Regions from separate parts of the Homo sapiens genome. Here region 2 is linked to region 1. The links come from fine-mapping of genetic effects on gene expression. A gene starts in region 1. The other region holds a variant in brackets. All regions are shown on one strand. Distances are from middle to middle. Region 1 holds the start of VPS26B (VPS26 retromer complex component B). Region 2 overlaps JAM3 (junctional adhesion molecule 3).

The links. PIP is the estimated chance that this variant, and not a neighbour inherited with it, causes the effect.
Region 2: its variant is fine-mapped to the expression of VPS26B in lung (TOPMed, PIP 0.94).

What each region holds. Positions count from the first base shown.
Region 1 is chr11:134,222,278-134,227,584 of GRCh38, forward strand. It overlaps VPS26B (VPS26 retromer complex component B), which reads left to right and starts at 2,394. Exons shown (of 6, transcript NM_052875.5): 1 at 2,394-3,068. The coding sequence starts at 2,846. It overlaps NCAPD3 (non-SMC condensin II complex subunit D3), which reads right to left and starts at 1,690. Exons shown (of 35, transcript NM_015261.3): 1 at 1,586-1,690. The coding sequence starts at 1,649. RefSeq lists enhancers at 2,131-2,180, 2,971-3,030, 3,131-3,280 and a silencer at 2,301-2,770.
Region 2 is chr11:134,145,343-134,150,712 of GRCh38, forward strand. It overlaps JAM3 (junctional adhesion molecule 3), which reads left to right. Exons shown (of 9, transcript NM_032801.5): 6 at 604-703; 7 at 3,205-3,334; 8 at 3,422-3,476; 9 at 3,804-5,370. The coding sequence ends at 3,839. It overlaps NCAPD3 (non-SMC condensin II complex subunit D3), which reads right to left. Exons shown (of 35, transcript NM_015261.3): 35 at 4,771-5,370. Among named protein-coding and RNA genes, the nearest start is that of SNORD153, 3.3 kb to the right of the region's middle. The variant A/G (reference allele first, on the strand shown) is at 2,184.

The sequences.
Region 1 (5,307 bases):
TCACCTATTCACTCAACAAACACTTTGAGAAAATACTAGGGAAGCCACTTATACTTCTAGGGATATAAAGATGAATACTAGAGGGTTCTTGTCCACAAAGATCTCAACATTTCACACTTAGGATACCAAAAAAAGCAGCCTATGATAGAAGAGAGGCCACTGAATTTTGAGTCAGAACGAGGCAAATATCCTGACTTGATCACTTACACATAATTAGTCTCTCCTTCATCATTGGAAATACAGGATTTTTGTGAAACATAATGTGTATAAAGGCCCTAACAATGTGCTAGCCACATAAAAAACAGTCAATAGATGGTATTTATTATTTTTGCTATGGATGAGTGTTAAAATAATAGATATGTAAAATGTAAAATGCTACAGAGCTTAATAGGGAATAGTACTGGGGGAGGAGGGAGAGGAATAAGATGATTCTTCAATTGGACCTGAATGTAAGAGTTTTGCCAGGCAAATAAATGCAGAAAAGTGCCTCCCAGCAAGCACAGTGTAACAAAGCACACAAAGGGAAAGAAATTAAAGTGTTTCTAAATGAACAAAATTGTTACAGTGTTTGCTTGTGGGTATTAGTATCTGTTCAGCAGTTATTATGTGGCAAGTACAAATTTATCTTTACAAAAACCCCTGTGAGGTAGATATTGTACTCCCCATTTGACAGATCAGAAAACAGGGGTTTAGCAAGGATAAACAACCTGCACGGTAATACATGGATGCTATGGGGTAGAGCCAAGGGAACAATCCAAGTGTGTCCGACTCCAAAGGTTATGCTCTTGGAAAATCAAACTGGAGAGAATGGCAGCTCTTATAAAGCATGCCAAGGATGTGGTCATTTATTTAGGAAACAAAGGGGAAACATTAAAGGTGTACAGGCTTGACACATTCAAAGCTGTGTTTTCAAAAGTCGTTCTGCAAAAGTGTGGGGGATGGGCTGGCACAGTTAACATCAGAAAGCAGCTAAAATACTCCTGCAATTGCTCGAGGCTATGATGAAGGCAGCAGCATCAGGAATGGAGCGGGGCTGCCCTGAGACACCTCAGAGGCAGGACAGTGGTAGTGGGCATGAAAGGGGAAGCAGAAATGCCATGACTCCTGGGTTGGTGGCTTGGATGGTGCCATTAGCAGGCTTTGGGAATCCCATTTTCACTCATGTGACGTTTGATGATGTCTGCATGTGAGACATCCAGTGGAACCTATGAACATGAAGTTCAAGAAATAAGTCTGGCGGAAGAAAGAGATTTGCAATTTAAAACCATCTTAATAGGTAAGAATAGATAGGTGCACGAAGACACGCACAGGAAGAAGGGGAAGGCCGAGAAAACAGATGCACAGGCGCTAGAAGAGACTGGCCAACATTCGCTTATTCTAAGGGTGGCCTGGCCGGCTTGAGCCCCCACGGGAAACCTGGCTAGCCGCAATCCTGGCGTGGCACGGCCCTGGGGACCCCAGGCACCGCCGACAGCCGGGCGCCCCCACCCCGCCCCCACCGGCACCCCGGCCCGGGCTTAGGCATCGTCGGGGACGCATAGGACCCTCGCCCTGGCCCCCGGGCCTCCCGGCTGCATCTGCTCACCGAGTCTAAGATCCAGCGGACACCAGGGCTGCAGGCCGCTACCAAGGCCCCGCAACGCCACCATGATCCCAGGGCACCGGCTCGCCGCCGCCGTGCTCAACTTTCAAAGCTCGCTCCCGCGCGCGCGCCGAGTCGTTCCTGTGGACCAATCACAACGTACAGAATTTCCCACTGGCCAACCACCGCGCCGAGCCGTTTCCATTCGCTCAACCAATCACCGGCGTCGTCCGCCGCACGCTCAGAGAACTGGGCGGGCCGAAAAGTGGAAGCCAAACAAGGCTCCTGCGGGTGTTCCGCTAATTCGTTCGAGAAGGAGCCAGGGCCTGAGTTAAACCCTAACAGCGTTTTTCCCGCCTCGTTTTTCTTCAATGGGGGAAAATCTAAAGGGTATCTGAGATAGGGTACTTCCGGTAGTAACTGTCACCTTTGCCCTCGTCAGGCGACATTTCGCGTGCGTGTCAAAGGGCTGCCTTTCCCGTCAGCACTCGAACAGCGTAATATCCGAATGTGAAAGGCAGCCCAACGTGTATCGAGCTAAAGTAATAAGGGAAAAGTAGCCGAAAGCACTCCGAGAAGACAAGACAACTGCAGTTCTGTAGGGACTGCGCGGCACGCGTGGGCCCAGAGCCTGTCCCAGCGAGGTAGCAGCTGCCATGCCGACCGCTGGAGCGCCGGCCGCGCTCTCCCTGCGCATGCGCAGCGAGCTCTCCTCCGGGCTGCCGGGAGTCCCAGGAGCGTTAGGGGGTGCGCCTGCGCGCCGCTGCTCCAGCGCATCCGGGCTGGAGCTCGCCCGCCCCCTCCCCCGCCCGGAGCCGCCGAAGCGCCTCGGTGCGTTGCACCGCCGGAGGCTGGGCAGCTCGCAGCGCTGCTCGGCGCTGGACCCCACCCGGCAGGCGCAGGCCACCCACACCCGGCTCTGTGCGGCTGCCCCCCGCAGCATTGCACGGCCGACCCTCGCCCGCCCACTGCCACCGGCCGCGGGACTGGCTGGGACTGGCTCGGCCGAGGGCACTGCTCCTCGGTGCATTGCTGCTCGGGCGCCGCAGCCCGCAGCCGCCAGCCTCCCCCGGCCGTGCCCCTCCCCCGTGGAGCCGGCTGTCCGTCGGCGCCCACTGCCCGGCGGCAGCGGCGGAGCCAGGCAGCCCCGCGGCGGCCGAGCGCGCTCGCGCATCGGGCCCTCTGGCCTTCTTTACCTAGGGCAGCCCGCGCCCCGGTGCGAGGGAGCGGTCCTTACCGAGACCCGCCCGGCCCGGCGGTGCGATGAGCTTCTTCGGCTTCGGGCAGAGCGTGGAGGTGGAAATCCTTCTGAACGATGCAGAGAGTAGGAAGCGGGCCGAGCACAAGACGGAGGACGGGAAGAAGGAGAAATATTTCCTCTTCTACGACGGGGAGACGGTCTCCGGGAAGGTGAGCCTTGCCCTCAAGAACCCCAACAAGCGGCTGGAGCACCAGGGCATCAAGATCGAGTTCATCGGGCAGATCGGTGAGTCGACCCCCGGGACCCCCTCCCCCAGCGCCGACAGCCGGCCGGGGAGCAGGGTGATTCAGGGCCCAGCTCCTCCGGCGAGGCCTGTCACAGTCGCTTGTCAACTGCAGTCTGAGGCCTGGGGTTCAGCTACAAGTCCCGCCCGTGGGCGACTCCCCCTGCGTTACTGTCCTCCCTGCCAAAAGTGACAGCGCGCTGCCAGGGAGATGGGGACGGCGAGGGCGGGAGGAAGCGCCCTGCTGTGCCTCGTGGGATGGGCACCTTGCCTATGGGTTCTCCCCATTGTCTCCGGCATGCACTCGGCTTTGCTTCTTGTCCCCAGGATTTCTGGGTGAGGTGCTCTGGCCATAGCCTGCAGGTGGGTTTGTTAGGGGGAGACCGCTCTGCCAATACTGGCTTTCCCATCGCCCGGCCATCTGCAACTGCCAGACGCAAAGTGAGGCTCGTCCACCGAGCCCCACTTCCCAGAGCCCGCACCAACCCGTTTTTCTCTTTAGATGTGGTGTGAGAGAGCTAACCAGTTCTCTCTTACCTCACCTCAGCCCTGAACTACCTATGCTTGTACATGTTTCCAGAAAGAAGACCCATAATCTTCAGTCTAAATCTGACTACCTAGGCTGCGTTTCTTAGACTTCTTTATTAGAATGCAAGTTTTCAGTTACCACATTTTCTGTTTAAAGACAAAGAAATGGTGTTTCTAAAAACCACAATTAAGTGATCAGAGTTTCTCAATGCTTTAAACATGATTATTAATCATTGGAACTAGACAGCGCCAGGCACAGTGGCTGATGCCTACAATCCCAGCACTTTGAGAGGCTGAAGTGGGAGGATTGCTTGAGGCCAGGAGTTGGAGACCAGCCTGGGCAATATAGCAAGACCTGCCTCTACCCCCAAAAATTTTTTTGTAATTAGCTGGTCGTGGTGGTGCTTGCCGGTAGTCCTAGCTCCTCGGGGGGCTAAGATGGGAGGATTGTTTGAACCCAGGAGTTCCAGGCAGCAGTGAGCTGTGATAACACCACAGCACTCCAGCCTGGGTGACAACCAGCAAGACCCTGTCTCAAAAAAATAAACAAATAAACAAATAAGAACTAGACAGTAAAAGGCAGTAATGGTAAAGTGATTTGGGGAGCTCCCAGTCAAGACTGGGTCGTCTCCAATTCTAAGCCTTATTTAGACTCTTGTGTATTATTAAAATGCTTGGGTACTTTTAAAATAAGTTGTTTTTGTCGTTAGGTTAGGAGTAGAATCACAGTAAATACCCTGTGAGCTACACACCTCTGGTAGAGAATCCATACCGATACCACACACTGCATACATAACTCTGTTTTTAGAGACTTCCTTGGGGAATCTTTGTTAAACTCTCTTATCCTGAGAGTTTAGCAAAGAATTTGCCGTCTTTTTTTCACAGAGGCAGGAAACACGGAGACACAGGTAGGAGAAACCCTGGGAAAAGGAGGCCTTGTGGCCTGGCTCTTGGGTTCACTGCTCAGCCTCAAGCATTTTGCCTCTGGTATTTAAGAACATGAAATCAGGTTGAAGACTGGCTGATCTTACAGGAAGCTCTTTGTTGTTATTTTAAAGCCAGAATATGAAAGGTCTTAGTGTACCAGAAAAGGGGCCGAAGAGTGAGTTCCATGCCTTCTGCTTTCCTGCTTCTGGGTTCAATGGTGGGGTAGATGGCAAGGTTCCTCAGTAGCAGCACTGTGATGTCTGGCATCGTTTGGCATGTTGTCATGGGATGTTTAGCAGCATTCCCAGCCTCTACTGACCAGACAACAGTAGCATCCCCCACTTGCGACCACAAAAATGTCTTCAGATATTGCTGTATATCCTCTGGAGGGTAAAATCATCTCTAGCAAAGAACCCCAGGATAAACAGGATGAGTCCAAAGCATATTATGCTACGCATAGTAAATAGTCGAGAAATCCTTGCCTATTGAGCAAGGTATTTTTTAGTAGCAGTTTTAAAGTTATTGCATTGATTCTTTGGCTCCATAATAATAATTAGTGTTGGCAGGCATGTTTAGTCTGTGTCTATACCATCACTCCCAGATGGTGGTACCTTACCAGTATGTGAAAGATAACCCAGAATGTCTTCTGCCCCAGACAGTGTGAAATTAGCTGTTCTAGGAACCGTGTCAAGGCCTTCCTCTGGTCTAAATGAAAGGGAGTTGAAGAAACTGCTTGCTGTTCCTGCCCCACCTGATTTCTTGTCTATCTCCTTACTCCTGAGACAT
Region 2 (5,370 bases), 77 kb before region 1:
TTGCTTTAGGCATGATGAAGGTATTGTGGTTACGATTTTTTACAGTCTTGTAGAGATACTGAAGTATTTATGGATAAAAGGTGTTTGGAATTTGTTTCAAAATAACCCAGTGGTGGTGGTGGGAGGTGGGGGAGGAGAGGAAACAGATTGGTCATGCACTAGAGGACAAAGTGACCTGGCCAGCAAACCACACCAGGCTTTTACTGCATGTGGTTCTCTCCTGGGAGGTACCTTCTGATCTGTGGACCATCCAGTTCCACGTAGTCATCAGACAGATTTTAACAGGGTCCTCTGTGTTCATTTTGCCAAAATGTTGCCCCAGGAGCAGTCATCATTGAAGAGCCCTTTTACCAGAATAAAAGCAAGGTTCCACCTCCCATTTCGGATGTTGCCAGGCTTTGGTGTCTCCAGTCCCAAGGGGATTGGTTGTTGGGGAGCTGTCAGGCAGGTATCAGGGAGTGGGTCAGGGAGGAACATGCACAGTGCTGGGGAAGCTGAAAGCAAGCGAGCAGGTGTCGACCTAGTTCTGGACCCAGCTGGCTGTGCTCTCAGAAATCGGCCCCATGATGGGTCCGATTATTTACTTGTCATTCCCTGAAACAGGTGTTCACTGCTGTTCACAAGGACGACTCTGGGCAGTACTACTGCATTGCTTCCAATGACGCAGGCTCAGCCAGGTGTGAGGAGCAGGAGATGGAAGTCTGTGAGTTTCTTTTTTGAAGAGGTTTCATCGCAAGACTGGGAAGTGAATAGAACATTTTAATTTAATATTATACCATCAGCTTAGAGAACTCTTCCGCCATGGGTTAGCTTTCTTCTGGAGCTGCCTAGGTCCACCAGAACCCACTGCACAGTGAAGGGAAGGCTGAGAAAACCGAGTCCAGATAAGCAGGTCCTCAAAACAAAACCTTCTGGGATCTGCTGGTGTTGGGAACGTGGCCAGCCTTGCAACTTTCACTGCAAGTTTAGTAAACTCCATTCTTTGGTAATTGATAGAATTATCAAAATGTAAGGTGGTGTCAGGTCTCCAGAAATTTATCCAGTTATAACCCTCTTGTAGAAAACTGACAGTTTTAGCCCGAGTAATTTTACCTGCAGACAAAGCTTAGCCCCTAGAGTAATGTTATCTCAGGGCTCTGGTTCCCCTAATGGAGGGGCGTTGAGAGGAGGGTGGGGGCAGAGAGGATGTGTCCAAATCACTTGGGGAGCTTTTTTTTTTCTTAAAAAACAAAAAACAAAAAACACCACAGGGTCTTGCTTTGTTGCCCAGGCTGGAGTGCAGTGAGTGCAGTCACAGGTCACTGCATCCTCAAACCCAGCCTTCAAGCCATTCTCCCACCTCAGTCTCCTGAGTAGCTGGAACAACAGGCACACACCACCATGCTCAGCTAATTTTATTTTTTGTAGATACGGGGTCTCACTGTGTTGCCCAGGCTGGTCTCAAACTCCTGGCCTCAAGCAATCCTCCTGCCTCGGCCTCCCCCAGGTGCTGGGATTAACAGGCATGAGCCACTGTGCCCAGCCAGGAGCATTTTTTGAATCCTTCCCTCCTCCCTATTTGGAGCTCTCCTCAGAGCAGCATTTTCCAAAACTGCCTGGTGATACCCATTTGGGACCACTGTTTCACATACAGATTCGAGCCCACCTCAGACATATGCTAGAAATGTCTGTGTGTGAGACAAGCGTTCCGAAGGATTCTTCTCATGTGTCACGTTTGAGAAACTCTGCTCTAGGGTTGTTTTCTCCTGCAGTTTTGCCCCAGACCTACTTTAGCCTATTGACTTTTTAGTGATGAAACTTGGGAATTGACATTTTAACATCAAAATTGCATGCCAGGCGTGGTGGCTCACACTATAATCCTAGCACTCTGGGAGGCTGAGGCGGGTGGATCACCTGAGGTCAGGAGTTCAAGACCAGCCTGGCCAACATGCCAAAACTCTGTGTCTACTAAAAATACAAAAATTAGCCTGGTGTGGTGGCAGGCGCCTGTAGTCCCAGTAACTTGGGAGGCTGAGGCAGAAGGATCCCTTGAACCCGGGAGGCGGAGCTTGCAGTGAGCCGAGATTGCACCACAGAACTCCAGCCTGGGTGACGGTGACGGAGCAAGACTCTGTCTCAAAAAAAAAAAAAAAAAAACGATTGCAAGTTTACTTTTTGTTTTTGAGATGGAGTCTCGCTCTGTC[A/G]CCCAGGCTGGAGTGCAGTGGCACAATCTCGGCTCACTGCAAGCTCCGCCTCCCGGGTTCACACCTTTCTCCTGCCTCAGCCTCCTGAGTAGCTGGGACTACAGGCACCTGCCAACACGCTCAGCCAATTTTTTGTGTTTCTAGTAGAGACGGGGTTTCACCACCTTAGCCAGGATGGTCTCGAATCTCTGACCTCGTGATCTGCCCACCTCGGCCTCCCAAAGTGCTGGGATTACAGGCGTGAGCCACCGCGCCCGGCCTGCAAGTTGATTTTTAAGTGTACATTCATCTTTGAGAACCAATACACTAGGATAAAGGAGATTTTTTTAAAACTTCCAAGTTACTTGGCTCTTGTTGATAAATTCCCTGCATAGTTTTCCATGTGTCGCTTGCTTGAAGGAACGGCTGCCAGAGCCCCATATGAAAGTGACCCAGTGCCTTTGCCCAGTGTATAGACATGAGAAAAGGGTTCCAGGGGGTTTCCTCTCAGAGGGCTTATAGATCGGAGGTCAGGCAGCCGGCAGAGACAAAGCTCTAGTTCTTACCTAGGATTCTTTACTTGTTTGTTTTTTGAGACAGATTCTTTAAGGCTTGAAGCTACCTTTCTTCCCCGCAGCAATCTGCAACAAAGGGAGGCCCTGGAAATTAGGGATTCTTTTCTTCTTGGGATCCTGGCTCCTAATCTTGTCCTCATAACCATTTCCTCCATAAGTAATCTCAGGCATTCAGCCAGAGGATTTTTAAGCCTACAGTGCCAAGCCCACTTTAATACACTTTTCAGTGCGACTGCATTTCAACTGTAGAAGTCTCAGTACTTTTCACGTGTGAAGTTAGGAGTTATGGTGTCCTATATGTTCTAGGCTAGAAGGATTGTAAGTGTTCTCTCTTCTAGCTGGGGTAGGCCTGAGGGGGCAGGGGGCAAGTGGGTTTGGGGTGAAGGAAGGAGGCACAGCAGGGCCAGGGCCTTTTTAAATAACAGATAGTGTGTATCATGGCTTCCACCAAACCTCCTTTTCTTCAGATGACCTGAACATTGGCGGAATTATTGGGGGGGTTCTGGTTGTCCTTGCTGTACTGGCCCTGATCACGTTGGGCATCTGCTGTGCATACAGACGTGGCTACTTCATCAACAATAAACAGGATGGAGAAAGGTGAGCCTGCCTTATGTGAAAAAAGGGAAGTTCAAGCTGGCAATAATATAACAACCCTGTTGCTAAACTGCTCTCTTCTCCTCATAGTTACAAGAACCCAGGGAAACCAGATGGAGTTAACTACATCCGCACTGACGAGGAGGTAATCATTTAGTAAACCTGGAAACCTAGGTGTACCCAGCAGGGAAAACAACATTCCCCCTTGGAAACCACACGGGTCTCCTGGGAAGATTTCTGAGTGATTGTGCAGCTCCTGAGCTCCTCAGCCCCTTCACAGTAACACACACACACACACACACACACACACACACACACACACTAATGGGATTTGTGCTTTGCAAGCGCTAGTGATGGTACTTTTTAAGAATGATTATTCCATCTGTATTTAGCCCATGTTAGACTTACTCCGTGTTTTTCCCTGCTTGCCACCAGGCCCCTTGATGGCTCTAACTGTGTGTTGGCTTTGCAGGGCGACTTCAGACACAAGTCATCGTTTGTGATCTGAGACCCGCGGTGTGGCTGAGAGCGCACAGAGCGCACGTGCACATACCTCTGCTAGAAACTCCTGTCAAGGCAGCGAGAGCTGATGCACTCGGACAGAGCTAGACACTCATTCAGAAGCTTTTCGTTTTGGCCAAAGTTGACCACTACTCTTCTTACTCTAACAAGCCACATGAATAGAAGAATTTTCCTCAAGATGGACCCGGTAAATATAACCACAAGGAAGCGAAACTGGGTGCGTTCACTGAGTTGGGTTCCTAATCTGTTTCTGGCCTGATTCCCGCATGAGTATTAGGGTGATCTTAAAGAGTTTGCTCACGTAAACGCCCGTGCTGGGCCCTGTGAAGCCAGCATGTTCACCACTGGTCGTTCAGCAGCCACGACAGCACCATGTGAGATGGCGAGGTGGCTGGACAGCACCAGCAGCGCATCCCGGCGGGAACCCAGAAAAGGCTTCTTACACAGCAGCCTTACTTCATCGGCCCACAGACACCACCGCAGTTTCTTCTTAAAGGCTCTGCTGATCGGTGTTGCAGTGTCCATTGTGGAGAAGCTTTTTGGATCAGCATTTTGTAAAAACAACCAAAATCAGGAAGGTAAATTGGTTGCTGGAAGAGGGATCTTGCCTGAGGAACCCTGCTTGTCCAACAGGGTGTCAGGATTTAAGGAAAACCTTCGTCTTAGGCTAAGTCTGAAATGGTACTGAAATATGCTTTTCTATGGGTCTTGTTTATTTTATAAAATTTTACATCTAAATTTTTGCTAAGGATGTATTTTGATTATTGAAAAGAAAATTTCTATTTAAACTGTAAATATATTGTCATACAATGTTAAATAACCTATTTTTTTAAAAAAGTTCAACTTAAGGTAGAAGTTCCAAGCTACTAGTGTTAAATTGGAAAATATCAATAATTAAGAGTATTTTACCCAAGGAATCCTCTCATGGAAGTTTACTGTGATGTTCCTTTTCTCACACAAGTTTTAGCCTTTTTCACAAGGGAACTCATACTGTCTACACATCAGACCATAGTTGCTTAGGAAACCTTTAAAAATTCCAGTTAAGCAATGTTGAAATCAGTTTGCATCTCTTCAAAAGAAACCTCTCAGGTTAGCTTTGAACTGCCTCTTCCTGAGATGACTAGGACAGTCTGTACCCAGAGGCCACCCAGAAGCCCTCAGATGTACATACACAGATGCCAGTCAGCTCCTGGGGTTGCGCCAGGCGCCCCCGCTCTAGCTCACTGTTGCCTCGCTGTCTGCCAGGAGGCCCTGCCATCCTTGGGCCCTGGCAGTGGCTGTGTCCCAGTGAGCTTTACTCACGTGGCCCTTGCTTCATCCAGCACAGCTCTCAGGTGGGCACTGCAGGGACACTGGTGTCTTCCATGTAGCGTCCCAGCTTTGGGCTCCTGTAACAGACCTCTTTTTGGTTATGGATGGCTCACAAAATAGGGCCCCCAATGCTATTTTTTTTTTTTAAGTTTGTTTAATTATTTGTTAAGATTGTCTAAGGCCAAAGGCAATTGCGAAATCAAGTC